Homo sapiens: one gene and its partner. The protein of the gene in region 1 purifies or fractionates together with the protein of each later gene. This does not show direct contact. Each region holds a gene or a part of one and is shown on either strand. Other genes may lie near its edges.

Region 1 (7,174 bases):
ACCACTACACCAGGCTAATTTTTGTATTTTTAGTAGAGATGGGGTTTCACCATGTTGACCAGGCTGGTCTCGAACTCCTGACCTCAAGTGATCCGCCTGCCTTGGCCTCCCAAAGTGCTGGGATTACAGGTGTCAGCCACTGTGCCCGGCCTTGAATCAATTTTTATAACATATTCTAGATAATAATGAGAAAATGTTAACATTCAGTATCTATAAAGTATGCCTACAAATCAATAAAAGATCCACTTAAAACTAAGCAAGTGACAAATGTGCATAATTAATAGAAGAAAAATTCAAATAGCCGTTTGATGTGTGCTTTAAATCTGTTATATTTAGGGTAACCATATATGCCTATTTCCCTGGCAGAGTCCTGGTTTACATGTATTTGTCCAGTAAAATTATGACTAGTATCACTTTTTGTCTCGAAAACTTCCTATTTGGGGCTGGGCGCTGTGGCTTACGTCTGTAATCCCAGCACTTTGGGAGGCCGAGGCGAGTGGATCGCTTGAGGTCAGAAGTTCGAGACCAGCCTGACTAACATGGTGAAACTCCATCTCTACTAAAAATATAAAATTAGCTGGGCATAGTAGCGCATGCCTGTAATCCCAGCTACTCGGGAGGCTGAGGCAGGAGAATCACTTGATCCCAGGAGACAGAGGTTTCAGTGAGCTGAGATCGCGCCATTATTCTCCAGCCTGGGCAACAAGAGCAAAACTCATCTCAAAAAACAAACGAACAAACAAACAAAAAAAGAAAACTTCCTATTTGGACAATACATTTTAATGTCTCTTTACTTAGAATAAATGAGATGCAAGTTTAAATGATAGTAGAGATTTTATTATTATTATTACCAATCAGATTAGCAAACATTAAAAAGATTTATGATGTACATTGCTGGAAAGGGTGTGTTGAGATGGAAGAATATTGGTGAAAGTGTTGGTATTCTCTTTTTATGTTAGAAATTTGGCAATATCTATTAAAATTTTAATTGCACATATCATCTGTTCTAGCTATTGGACTTTTGGAATCTTAACTAATGGGAATAGTGGTGGCGTGGTGCAAAGACATGCATTGACAAAGTTGTTATAATAGTCCAAAACTGGAAACAATTTACATGTGTATCAATAGGCTATTGATTAAATAAATAAAGATGCACCTATGAAATGAAATACTATGTAGATCTTTAAAACAGTGAGATGCAGTAAGATGCAGAATGGTATTATGGTTTTAACTGGTATTTGCAGAAACATGCCATATATCATTTATTTTTCTATGCTTAGAGAAAAAAGCTTGAATATATATACACACTTAACACCTATATCATGAGGGTTAGATGAACAGAAATGGAAACAGAAAATTTGATAAAGGTTTTGTTAAGTGTTAGGGGGAAAATAGTTTTTGGAAAAAAAAAAACAGCTTATTTGGCAGTAATACCAGACACTACGTATACTGGCAGGAAACAGAAAAATCTGGTTTGGTTTGGCAACAGGTGTCAAAGAGTAATCTTTTAGTTTTATTAATGTTTCTTCCAGTTGGAAGTGTGACTTTTTTTCCTCTGTCAGAAAACTTCATGGCTATATAAAAGATTTTTCAGTTCTGGAGATATGGGAAAGCTGGATCACAGCCCATGGAGTTATTACTTTTTATCTTTCTGTAAGAATATACAGTGTTAGAATTCTAAGGCAGTAAGGGCCTCAAGTCCCTTCTTGTCAATGCTCTCATTTTTTTATTTTTTTTTTAGTGATAAAAATAAAGTTTTACCTATTTCATCCAGGAATATATGCTTTGTATCTTATACGTAATATTCCAGAGAAAAAGAAAGTTACCTATACCTCTTTTTTGAAGAATAGATATTCTTAATATCCACACCATTCAAAGACAATGTAAAAACAAAACAAACAAAACCCCAAAAAACAAACCCCCAAAACCCAAAACCCCAATATTGTAGGTCAGTCTCCTACCTGAGTCTGTATGAAAAAATAAAAATATTACAAAATAAAATCAAGCAGTTAATTAAAAATAACAGACTCAATGATAAAGAACTCTTCAAGTCCATCAGAAAAACTACTCAGTGTAAAAGTGGATAAATAGGTTCATGTGCAATTCCCAGGAAATAAAATGCAAATGGAGTAACAATCACATAAAATATTCTCAAGTTCATTATGGCCATGAGAATGAAAATTAATTACAATACAAATAATATTCATTTGTATCATATTGATGACAATTAAACATTTTTAGAAAGCTAAACGTTTGTGAGAATGTGAAGAAAGAAGATTATCCACTGCTAAAAGTATGCTGGAAAAAAATTTAGGATATCTGGTAAAAGTGTACATGCTCTAAAACCAAGAAATTCTGTAATCAGGTATGTGTCCGAGATTTTCCAGGCTATGTGTATATCAATGTTCTCATTTTACAAATAAAGTAATCAAAGCCTAGCTCTTTTTACTATTAATATATATAAAACTACTTAGAACTTTTAATATATATTAAAAGTTAACTATTTTAACTTAAAAGTATTTATTTTAACTTAAAATAAATTTTTTTATATTAAAAGTTAACTACTTTAACTATTTATATATATAAAACTACTTAGAAGTTTTAATATATATAAAACTACTTATATCCTGGTATATATTAAGGATTATATAATAATATATAGTTATCTATGATCATCCTCATCCTCATCATCAATAGTCAGTTGTAGGTGAAATTCTATTAATTAATACTGACAAATAACACATTTTAGGTGCTCATCATTGGCTCTCCGGAGGAGTATTCTAACAGCTGAATTAAAAACCTGCCAATATTTGACCAGACGATCAAGTTTGGAGGACGTCCCTTCCTCTCCCACCCAGAGCCACGCTCTTGCGTGCTTCCACAGTGACAGTGTGACCTTTTGAAATTTGGAGATCATACTCTCATCCTTGAAAACGCCCCACCGCCTTCCCTGGGGCGGCCGGCCTCCAGGTTCGCGTTCTACCTGGTAGAATCCCTTGACAGTTTCAGTACCTGGCCGCCAGGGCTTTGGGTGTTAATGCCTTCCTTGGACGGGAGGCACTGGGGAGAAGAGAGGGAAGGCGCTGAAACCCACCTGAGAAGGCGGGCTGGGGGAAGGCACCCCGGGAAAGAGGTTTTCTCGGGTGCCAGCACCCGGAGAGAGCTACTCTGGGGCCAGGCAAGCATCCCGCCTAGGCTCCCTAGTGCATATTAGTGAGTAACACGACTGGCGCGCGAGGTGGTCCATTTTATTTTTGGTAGCTAGACGCCAATAGGACGCACCACTTCAGCTCCAAACGGGAACTGGTGGCCCCAAGATGTTTTCTTTTCTTTTTCATTTTTTTGAGACAGGGTCTCGCTCTGTCGCCCAGGCTGGAATGCAGTGGAGAGATCTCAACTCATCGCTACCCCCTCCTTCTGGGTTCGAGTGATCCTCCCACCTCAGCCTCAGTAGCTGGGACCACAGACACGCGCCACCACGCCGGCTAATTTTTATATTTTTTGCAGAGAAAGGGTCTCGCTATGTTGCCTAGGCTGGTCTCGAACTCCTGGCCTCAAGTGATCCACCCGCCTCGGCCTCCCAAAGTGCTGGAATTACTGGCGTGAGCCACCGCGCCCGGTCTGCCCCCAAGACTTTCATTGAAAAGATGGAATGGTCGCTTCTGTGCGGATCCTCCAAACCATCGTTGGGAGAGGCCTCCTTAAAGTCTAGGAGAAAAGTTGTTTGGGACCGATATGAAAGTAAGGCAAAGCCGGATGGAAGAGAGTAGCCGAAACAAGCAAGAAAAGGAAAAGCGATCGTGATGGGTTTAGGAAAGGTGATCTGGCGTGCTAAATGGCATTTCCGGAGAAATCTGAAAACTATTGCTTTACTGAAGTATAGCAAAGAGCTGTCCGGGCTCTGGAAACTCCTTAACGGATCAAAACGGATGCAATGGGTATCCTTCTCCAAAGACACACCTCAAACGGGCCGGGAGCCGGGCAGTTAGCCACCCGCTGCCTCCCCTTCCGCAGTCCGGCTCGCAGCCGCTCAGCTACCTCTAAAGCCCGGAGCAGGAAAGTCCGCGCAGGCCTGGATGGCCCGGGTGGTAATCTAGCAGGCCTGCACACTGCGCATGCGCAGGGGGTGGACTGCCAGGTCGGCTCAGGGAGCCGTGACGAGTCCGGAAGCGCCTGCGCGCGCTCCTCCGTACGAGAACTAGTTTTGTTCCGTGCCCTCTGGACTGGAACCTTTTGGAGAGAACCCCCGGCAGGACCAACCCCGCACCCGCCAGCACCGCGGCAATGTCCAGCAATAGTTTTCCTTACAATGAGCAGTCCGGAGGAGGGGAGGCGACGGAGCTGGGTCAGGAGGCGACCTCAACCATTTCCCCCTCGGGGGCCTTCGGCCTCTTTAGCAGCGATTTGAAGAAGTGAGGAGAAAGGTTTGGGTTGCGGGGATGGGAGGGAGGAGCTGCGGACTCGGAGGAGTGGGCGCCAGGGTGGGCTTCCTGGAGAGGAGCGGGGTCGCCCTGAGGTCTGAGCAGGGCAGGGCGGTAACGTGTCCCGCGGGTGGGTAGGTGGGGTTGGTTGGCGGTGGTGGGAGTTGTGGGAGTTTGGGGCGAATGTGTGTAGGGGTCTCTAGTAGTTTTCAAACTTTAGTGAAAAGGAAACCACTTGGTGAGCTTAGATCCCACCCCTGAAGACACTGATTGAATTGGACTTGGGCTGGGCTCAGGAGTCTGAATTTTGAGCATCGTCTTCTAGTTTATTTACCGTTCGCCGGATCAGACTTTAATACATTCCCTGATTAGGGTGAAAGGAGTGTTTTGGTGAAGGTGAGAGTGCGAGTGTTGCTTGTGGGAAGTTATTTTGTGACCCCGGAGTGTAGGAGCAGAGAGGTGGATTTAGGCTGTTTGAATGGACAAACTGGTTTACACCAGTATTAATGTTCTTGGATTATGTCCTTTGCACTACAGACAAAAACACCAATCCAAAATAAGCATATGAATAGAAAATATTTTAAAAGAGTGTTACTGTGAACAAATCCAAAACTTTTACAGATTAATAATGTGAATTTTAAAAACGAATGTTAAACAAGGTACACTTAGTTTTGTAAAAAGTATCACCGAGAAATGGAAAGAAATCCCAAGTTGTTTGTTTTGGGGGGTGGGTTGGTGGTAGTGGTTACATTTACCAGAATTATCATTTTTACATTTCTCTTATTTTAAATCTTTCATTACTAAGCAATAGGGTCACATAATAGTCTGTCACTAAATTCATGCTAAATTAAGGTAGAATAGCTGTGCTAGTAGCTTTGCAGATCTGTTAGAGGGTATAATTAAAATTTAAATTAAACGTTACTAACAATATTGGGTAGTCTAGAAAGTGCTACTACTTCAAATTGGGATTACATTTTGGCTGTATTGAGGATCAAAATCATATATATAGCATGTAAGATACAATCTTTTCCTTTTTCCCAAGGTTAGAAAAGTTTAAAAGTAAGGTAACTGATTTCATTTTTCATTATATGCATTTGATGATCCATTGTTCTAGAACAAGTACGGAGCTTGTTGCCTCTACTATTAGCAAAATGTTTAGACTGAATTAACCTGTATATCGGCATCAATCTGTTTCGCAAATTAATTTACTTTTATGGTTTGTGAACATCTACGATGTTTTCTCTTAGATTTTTGTCAGATTTGGGGCCAGGCACTGCGGCTCACGCCTGTAATCCCAGCACTTTGGGAGGGTGAGGTGGGCGGATCGCTTGAGGCCAGGAGTTCGAGACCAGCCTGGCCAACATGGTGAAACCCCGTCTCTACTAAAAATACAAAAATTAGCCGGGCGTGGTGGCTCGTGCCTGTAATCCCAGCTACTCGGGAGGCTGAGGCAGGAGAATCGCTTGAACCCGGGAGGCGGAAGCTGCAGTGAGCCGAGATCGCGCCACAGCACTCAAACGTGGGCGACAGAGTGAGACTCCGTCTCAAAAAAAGAAAAAAAAGAAAAAGATTTTTGTCAAATTTGGACCTGATTTGGAAAAAAAAAACAAAAAAAACTTACGGCTTTGACTCTGTGACCAGTGCTCTTGAGGTGACCTAACAGGTTGGATTTAAAATAAAAGTAGCTAATTGATTAGAGGTGATATGTAATATATGCAAATAACCATGGTTGAATTGTGTTCCCCGAAAGATATTTATTGAGTATTTGTGCACACCACTTTACATTTATTATCTCATTCAGTTTTCCTAAACAACCCTGCAGGTTATTACCAGGTACTTCTCTGCTCCCACTTTACACGTGAGGAAATTGGAGCAAGGTTGTTAACTTGGAAAAGGCCACAAAGGTAGAACATTGCACTGCCTGAATTTGAACTCAGGGGCTCTAATATTAGAGCCCATTCTCTCAAAAGTTTAGATGTGCTACTTACTACTTGATGAAATGTATGGTATTTTTATTAGTGAGTGCATACAACTCACAAAAAGTTTAAAACTTTAAATAGTAGCTCCAAGTAGTACCACCAGAGAAGCTTCCAGGGATTAGAAACATTTGGCTATTGACCTGCAGTCTAATGGAATTGTACAGAAACAAGGAGACCCCTGTTCTGGAAGTGGTCATTAAATCTCTCTTGAGTCCACATTTTCTCATTTATAAAACCGTAATATTACTTGCCTTTTAAAAAATCGAATGACAAAGTTTATATAAAAAACTTAAAGCTTACCCTATTCCTCACCTCTGGTTTTTAATGGTTTACTCTGATGAAATAGTTTCAAGTTTACAAAAAAGTTGCAACAATGACACAGAGAGCTACCCTTTTGCAGATTTACCAATTAAAAAAAAAATGCTACATTGCTTGCTTACTCTCTCTGCCACTCACTCTCCCCATGCATATTCAGGCACATATACGTATTCATGTTATTATGTCTTCTGAACCATTGGAGACTCAGTTGTACACATCATGTTCTTTTACAATGAAAATCTTAATGTGTAATTTTTAAGAACAAAGATATTCTCTTACGCAACTACAGTGTTGATGTATTCAGGAAATTAATCTAATTTTATCCTTTGTTCCAATAAAGTGTTTTTTTTCCCAAGCATTTTTTTCCTCAAGTACAGTTTCCAGTCCAAGATAATATATTTAATTTAGTTGCCATGTCTCTTTAATCTTCTTTAATCTGGGATAGTTCCTTAGCCT
Region 2 (8,005 bases), about 38 Mb from region 1:
GAGTTAGAGAGTTTTCTATGTTCAAGACTCAGTGTTGACTGCTTAGAATGACAAAAATATACCTAAAATCTGATACGTTCCTTCAAGTATTCTATAGGATGGCTGCCACGAGGAATTATAGGCTGTGAACGAGAATACTGTGTCATAACAAAGATGAAAAAAATCCTAAAAACCAGGAGGAGGCTTTGAGCAAGATCAAAGGCTTCACGGAATGTTTAGGTGATGTTTGTGCTGGGCCTAGAACAAGGGGTTGAATTTGTACACGTGGCAATGGAAAGGAAGGACATTCCAGGCAGCAAGAATAGAATGACGCCCTACACAAACAGACACTTCCAACTAATGTTCCCTTACACAGTCTGCTCCTGCTATGTACAAGTTCCTGGGGTTCTTCAAACAGGCGCTCTCCTCAGGGTTTTTGCATTTGCTGCTCCTTCTACCCGGGATGCTCTTCCCCCAGATATCTGCAAGGCTGCCTTTCTTACCTCCTTCAAGTCTTTGCTCAAATGCCACCTTCTCAGTGAGAACTTACCAGACTACCCTATTTTAAACTGTCATCCTCTCACTCTCTAAGACTCTTACCCGCTTTATTTTTTTTTCCACAGCACGTAATACTATCTGGCATGCTATAATACAGCCTACTCCTTAATAGTGCTATGTTCCTCACACAAGAGCGAAAGTTATCTGTTCATCTTCAGATTTTAAAACAGTGCCTGCACATGGTAGGCATAAATTAAATTTATCCGTTGACAAACTGATGGAATGAATGACTGAAAAAAAATAACTGCCCTCAAAAAGGTTATGGTCTAGTGGAGGAAGCAAATGTATAAATAAATAATCTTAAATTATTCCTGAAAGACAAAAAAACACTCGGCAAAACCCAACTTATAGAAACTTAAAACACAGAAACAACTTCTCATACTCCACCTATAAACGGCCAGTGACCACCAGATTCTTCTTTTTATATCTTCTAGCTCTGTGCCCTCAGTGGCACTGTCACTCATACAATGGCCAAAAATGCCACCAGAGCTGCCACTCCTGCCAAAACTGCCACTTCCCACATTAACCGTCACTGCTACCTAGTAAGTGATGGTAAACAATACTTCTGTTCCCACTTTTGGACAAGGGAAAGACAGATTTCTGAGTTTCTAAATTAAATGCATTTTTCAATAGATAGTTAAATTATACACTATACGAGTAGTATACACCGATTACATGGATTAGCCAGGAAACCCACTATTTTTAATATTGCTTAAGTTTAGATATGGAAAAATAATTTTTTGAATTGTTTTACTATTGCAACATACCTTTTTTACACTGCAAATGGATGACACTGGCAAAATGGTTATGACAAAGACTCCTTCAATAAAGGCTGGTACTATATTTTAACAAACAGGTAAAGTTAATGGCATTTTTTCCCATTCGGGAGGATCAACTAGAATTTAATCTGGATTAAAGAATGATGTAGAATTTTTAAACAGACCATTAGTATTGAAGTTATACTAAATTAAAACCACACACGAGTAGCAGAAAATATTCTTTATAGCTAGCAAAAGCAAAACAACTGAAAAAAATGAAGAATAAGCTCAAGATTTCTCACTTCAACTAACACCTCCAGACTGCATTATCATTTTAGGCAAACTGACATTTTCACATTTACTTTGTAATGGCAAGATTGATTTCCATCTGGGACTTATCTGCATAAAAGTGTTAGCCTTGGCACAATTTCAAAATTGAATTGAAAGCTCATTTCTTGCTATAAGCAAAGTGCCACAATACCACACAACAGTTATACCTCACATTAATCCTACCACTGGGAGTCCAATTTTATGTGTTTCAGCTAGCGAATTCTGCCCTCAGGTAAGCACATAACTCTATAAAACCCTTCCTCGATCATCAACAAATCACTTATCTCTACTACCTTAATGCCTCCTGCACTTGTCCATACTAAACAGTATTTACACGTTAAAAGAGAAGTTCTACAAATGCTACTATTCTTCATAAATAGAAAAAAACTATAAATGAGGGCAAATTCCCATACGTGGAAAAATGCCAAACCAGAAGCTGAAATCATAACTTTTAGGTATAGAACCACAGCTCCAATCAGTCAACTACAAACGTCGCCGGTTACTTCGAGGGTAAATAATTTGCAGCCAGCTGGTAAAAAGCCTGATAAAAATATTAGGTCCTCACATATCTTCCTTTTCAATAAGGAGACACCTGAAAGTCACACTGGGCAGTCTGTCACGTATCGAAACATGCAGAAGAGAGACTGTACAGAACGTGCAGTTATCAAACGCAGGAAGCCAAAGTTCCTGTGCTATGAGAGGACCACAGTGAAAAACGGTAGCCCATCTGTCCAAAGAACAGAAAGAAGTCCACCTGGAAAGGATGGGAGTCGGCGGAGGGGGGCGAGAAGAACGAGTTCCACGCCGTCTTCCTCCTCCCGGGCTAACTGCAGCCGCGGGCGGCAGGAAGGCAGCCGCGCGGGGTGGGCTCTTGGGGACTGGGCGCAGGGCTCCGCGGCGCGGCTGGGCTGCGGCTGCCCGATCGGCGAGGGCCGGGCCCCGGGAAGTCTCCAGGGCCTCGCCCGCGCAGCCAGGAAAGCATGCAGCCCACCGACGGGCGGAGGAACCGCCCGGGCAAAGCCACGTCGGTGGCTGACCGCGCGGCAGGGAGGTGGGCACCCTGTCCACACCCACCAGGAGGCTGACAGCTGGCGAGCGCCAGGCGGCCGGGACGGGACAAGGGCCGCAGCGCGCCGGAGGGGGTCGCTCTGAGAAAGCCGCGCTGGGCGCTGCCCGTCGCCAACGACTCCCCCTCGCCCGGATCAGCGGCGGCTGGATACTCACGTAGGGCTGGTAGAACTTGGAGAGCCGCGGCTTCCCGTGGTTGTTGAAGATTAGGATCGCCTTGATCATGGCTGTGCCGGGCCGACCGGGTGGGCACTGGGGGCCAGGGCGGGGGCGGGCGCGCGAGCCTCGCCTCGTAATCTCGCCTGCGATCCTTCCCCACCCGCCCCCTCCCGCACGCGACCGCGCGCGCTCCCGAGCCGTCGGGCGGGGCCCAAGGGGCGGGGCCTGGGCGGGGCAGGCACTAAGGAAAGCGGAAACATTTCTAGGTCCGAGCCAGCGGCCTAACTGGAGTGTGCGCATTCGACCGAGCACAGACACGTTGCCCACCGCTCCTCTCCCGAGGTCTGTAGTCGCGGAGAAACACATGTTGCGTTACTAACGTTCAGAGGTCTGCGACAGCTTCGATTTGAATGACTAGCCGGGAACACCAAGTTTCACTGTGTAATTGCGTCCCCCTACTCCGGCGCCTCCTTTGCGACGCTCCCTGGAGAAAAGCACGCCCACTGCACGCGCTCAGTCGCTACTTCCGCTCTCGAGTGTCTCCAAGCAAGATGGCGGAGGAGCCGCAGTCTGTGTTGCAGCTTCCTACTTCAATTGCTGCTGGAGGGGAAGGACTTACGGATGTCTCCCCAGAAACAACCACCCCGGAGCCCCCGTCTTCCGCTGCAGTTTCCCCGGGAACAGAGGAACCTGCTGGCGACACCAAGAAAAAAAGTAACTGAATTTATTTCCGGGCAGAGAGGCGGGAGGTTCAGATTGCATCCGAGTAGGGGTGGCGGCCAGTAAAGAAGCAAAATTTAGAGGAGCGCCTGTCCTAGACCTGCATTTTGACCAGTCATCAGAAGAAAAGAAGTGTACTTTTTGATTTTTAAGGCCTTTAAGTTGAGTGTTAAAATACCATCTCTGTCTATCGGTGTAGGGCCTGATACTTGGCTGCCACACTTATTTTTATACTGTATTTTTTTGAGTTGGCCAGACTGCGAGCTCTTTGAAGGAGGGAGGGAGCTGAGTGGGGCGGGGGGAGGGGGGTCTCGGTAATTCCAGGTACTTAACACAGGAGCTAATTATTTGAGTAATGTTTTATGGTGGTAGGGGTGGTCATTGGCAAAGCCTGGATTAGAATTCATGCCTTCCAACTTAACTCGCTTTTGCTTTTTTCCCCCTCCCAGTTGGTTGTGAATTCACTCCTTAAACCAAAAACCAAATTCTTATGCAGAATGAAGACTGCTAAGGGAAAGCTAAAGGCATAGATGTTACCTTTTTAAGAAACACATTTTGGAACCTTTGTGAGTTATTTCATTGCTTGAGTCAGCTATCCTCAACCCTTTATTGCTTGAGAATGTTTCCCTTTGTAAAAGAGATTGCTAAAATTACGTGTTCTAAAGCACTCTGTTTAGAGTTAGAGTTGCCTATGGGAAAAGCAGCATATAAGCATCCTCGATTCAGAGAGGCTGATTTCGTCCTTAGACGTTTTCCCCGTTCTGTCTTAAGATGACAGTGGTCTCTGGCCGGGCGCGGTGGCTCACTCCTGTAATCCCAGCACTTTGGTAGGCTGAGGCGGGTGGATCACCTGAGGTCAAGAGTTCGAGACCAGCCTGGCCAACATGGTAAGACTCCATCTCTACTAAAAATATAAAAGTTAGATGGGTGTGGTGGCGCGCGCCTGTAATCCCAGCTACTCGGGAGGCTGAGGCAGGAGAATCGCTTGAACCCGCGAGGCGGAGGTGGCAGTGGGCGGAGGTCTCGCCATTGCACTCCAGCCTGGACAACAAGAGCGAAACTCCGCCTCAAAAAAAAAAAAAAAAAAGACATTGGTCTCATTGCTTTTTCTTCAACTTCTGCTACTGTGGAGGATAATTCTCTCCCAAGACTGCCCCCCTTCCCACTTTAAATCAGACTCCCATTTCCACCTGATGCACTATAAGTATTTCCATGGATAGCCACTGGAATCTTTCTTCAAAAGAATTCCGCAGGTTTTACAGTGTTTTGTTGCATTTTTTCTTCCAATTTACTATAGGCAAGAGCGGACGTTCGGAGATTCGTTTTAAGGTCTAACAGTCTTAGTCAAAACTTGTTACTTGACTCTGATGATAGCTGTGCAAAACAAAAGCTAAAAAAAATGGCTTACAATCTAAATATTGCCCGAGGGCATATTTTCTTGGTCTGGACAGTATTTTTTTGCAAATTGAACTGTCATTTAAGGATGAGATTTTTATTTTCTGGCTCTTGTTAGCATTTGAGTTTGCCTCTCCAATATAAAACTTAGTTTCTAACTATTCCTACCTTGTGCTTGTCATTATTTGTTGAGGATAATATGATGAAAGCAGCTTAACTGTTTTGTATCCTCAGCCTTTGTTAATCTACAGAAGAAAGATTGTTGAAACAGACCAAGGTTTTGGCACTGGAGGTATGTTAGGTTTCCTGGGGAGTAAGTGTTTCCCTAGTTGATTCTAATGTGTATCCGGGTTCAGAACTACAAGCAAATCACCTTTAAAATTAAAAAGAGAGGGCAGCTATAATTAAATTATTTTCCTTCTCTGGTTTCTCACTGTCTTACACTTCATCCTTGGTAGCATAACTCATGATATTTCCTGCTTCACTTTCTGGAAATGTTTAATTGAATTAATCGATTTATTGATAGCCCCAGGGGATTTGAGGGAGCAGTGAAAGGAGGTATGAAAGATAGGCTAACTAAAATCCCACGTTATCTCCAAATTCATTCCTATTCCTAAGATAACTGGACCTAGGATAATTAAGTAGTTCTTTAGTAGGAAGATAAAGATCATGTGTTCTAGATGCGTTCATTCCAGGAGTAAACTTGAATAAAATGACCTCTGATCTTTTGGCCCCAATATTTAATACCTAAAGAATGGAGCAAGAAGGGTGTAATAGAATAGAGTTAACTTTAGGGGGCAGCAATACACTGTTTTGCTTTCAATGTGTCTTGCTTTTTGACTGTAGATTTTTTTTTTTTTTTTTTTGAGAGGATGTCTCAGTCTGTCACCCAGGCTGGAGTGCAGTGGCTTAATCTCGGTTCACTGCAACCTCCGCGTCCCGGGTTCAAGCTATTCCCCTGTCTCAGCCTCCCAAGTAGCTGAGATTACGGGCATGCACCACCACGCCTGGCTAAGTTTTTGTATTTTTAGTAGAGATGGGGTTTCACCATGTTGGCCAGGCTGGTCGTGAACAAGAAGTTGGAAGGGGACTGGGCCCTCTTGAACTCCTGACCTCAAGTGATCCTCCTGCCTCAGCCTCCCAAAGTGTGGAGATTACTGGCGTGAGCCACCGCGCCCAGCCAGATGTATGTTTGTTTTGTTTTAGCAAATAACTTTATGTCTGAGAGACAGATTCATAGGGTTTGGGTTTGCATATCTGTGTTTTGGATCGTTGAAACCTTAAGATTTCTCTTTCTGCAACTTCTTTTTGGCTTTGGTTGTTCTATTGTTAATAACTTATTGCTTTCCTTTATTAAAAAGTTTATTACAGAAAATTTGGTAGTTACAAACAGCATAAGTAAATCCAAGTAATCATTGCCTACAATGTCACTACTGAGAAATATCATTTTGTTGCATATTCTTCCATATTTATGTGAATGTGTTTGTGATGGTTTTTAATGAATTTAAGATATTATACATGCTGTTGGAGAGATTAAATATCCACATATATACCCAGCAAGTGGCAGAGCCAGGATTCGAACCCCAGGCAGTTAAAAGTGTATGCGGTTTACTACATTCTATTTAATCAGTCACCTCCAAATATCCTTTTTGGGTATTTAGGTTTACCAGTGTTTCATATAAAAATAAATGCTTAAATGGAGGTGAAATCTTTTTAAGTGAATTTTCACACATCTCATATTTTCTTACACTGGATTCCTAGAAGTATTATTGAATCAAAGTATACCTTTATTAGGATCTGTATTACCATACTGCATTCCACAAAGGGTATACCATTTTACATTCTCAAAAGTAGTATCATCTACACTGGTAATTACTCTAATTTTAACTAGTTTGGTGGGTGAAAAGGGACATGACATTATTTTACTTTGCTTTTTGTGAACTTAAATATTGTTTGTGTATTGATCATTTGTATTTCCTCTCTTTGGAACTGCCTGTTAAGATAAAAGGCATTTTAAAAATTAGTCCTGTTGGGAGAACTTTGTAGGATCAAGAAAAAAATGATGGAAAAGAATCTAACATTTTTACATCTCTCACATATCTTCAGTATCATAAATACGTAAGATGGATGTAGATTAAATATTTCTGATTTCTAAGTCTTTTATATTCCATTCTCTTTAGATGTTTCAGTGTAATTGTCAGTAAATTTTATTCTTCTTTTACAGTTGACATTTTGCTAAAGGCTGTGGGAGACACTCCTATTATGAAAACAAAGAAGTGGGCAGTAGAGCGAACACGAACCATCCAAGGACTCATTGACTTCATCAAAAAGTTTCTTAAACTTGTGGCCTCAGAACAGTTGGTATGAAACCAATGGTGATGTTTTCCTACAAAAATTTGCAGTAGTTCCTAGGCAACAGTGAATTAACTGTTGTTTATAGAAATGCATATGGAGCCACATATGTCGCTTTTGTTATGCCCTTTTATCCCTTTATTTTTATTTATTCATTTTTTTTTTTTGAGACAGTCTCGCTCTGTTGCCCAGGCTGGAGTGCAGTGACACACTGCAACCTTCTCCTCCTGGTTCAAGCGATTCTCCTGCCTCAGCCACCCTAGTAGCCAGGATTATTACAGGAGTGCACCACCAAGCCTGGCTAATTTTTGTGTTTTTAGTAGAGACGGGGCCGCCTCAGAAGTGCTAGAATTACATGAGTGTGCCACTGTGCCCTGCCTTATCTCTTGTTAGTGGAGTTTATGTACTTTATCAAAGGATTCTCTGGGGAATTCTGAAATGAAATGTTTTAGATTTGTTTTACAATGTGAACCAGTTTATGTATTTATTTTTTGCCTCCTGTATTGTTTTCCTCAGAAAGTCACATGAAAGTATGCATGAATACCCATGCATAAAAATCTATCATAGAGCATTGCAATATCTGTACATTACTACAGAAGTTTTGGATTTTTTCAGTTTGTTTTGATAGCAGTTACTTTTTTCCTATTTTTCTTGAGGTAAGCAATGTATCTTTGCCATATATTGTG

Evidence for each region.
Region 2: the proteins of AP3B1 (region 1) and AP3S1 fractionate together in Homo sapiens (co-fractionation; 6 studies listed by BioGRID and IntAct, with this or other methods). This does not show direct contact.

The regions. Positions count from the first base shown.
Region 1 is NC_000005.10:78,291,690-78,298,863, reverse strand, and holds the start of AP3B1 (AP-3 complex subunit beta-1), read left to right. Parts: upstream 1-4,165; 5' UTR 4,166-4,284; coding exon 4,285-4,412; exon of another isoform or gene 4,413-4,424; intron 4,425-7,174. UniProt on the Homo sapiens protein: Subunit of non-clathrin- and clathrin-associated adaptor protein complex 3 (AP-3) that plays a role in protein sorting in the late-Golgi/trans-Golgi network (TGN) and/or endosomes.
Region 2 is NC_000005.10:115,836,951-115,844,955, reverse strand, and holds the start of AP3S1 (AP-3 complex subunit sigma-1), read right to left. Parts: upstream 3,022-8,005; 5' UTR 2,919-3,021; coding exon 2,850-2,918; intron 2,470-2,849; exon of another isoform or gene 2,380-2,469; intron 1-2,379. Other genes in the region: ubiquitin-like protein ATG12, read left to right, coding at 3,404-3,566, 7,192-7,328. UniProt on the Homo sapiens protein: Part of the AP-3 complex, an adaptor-related complex which is not clathrin-associated. The complex is associated with the Golgi region as well as more peripheral structures.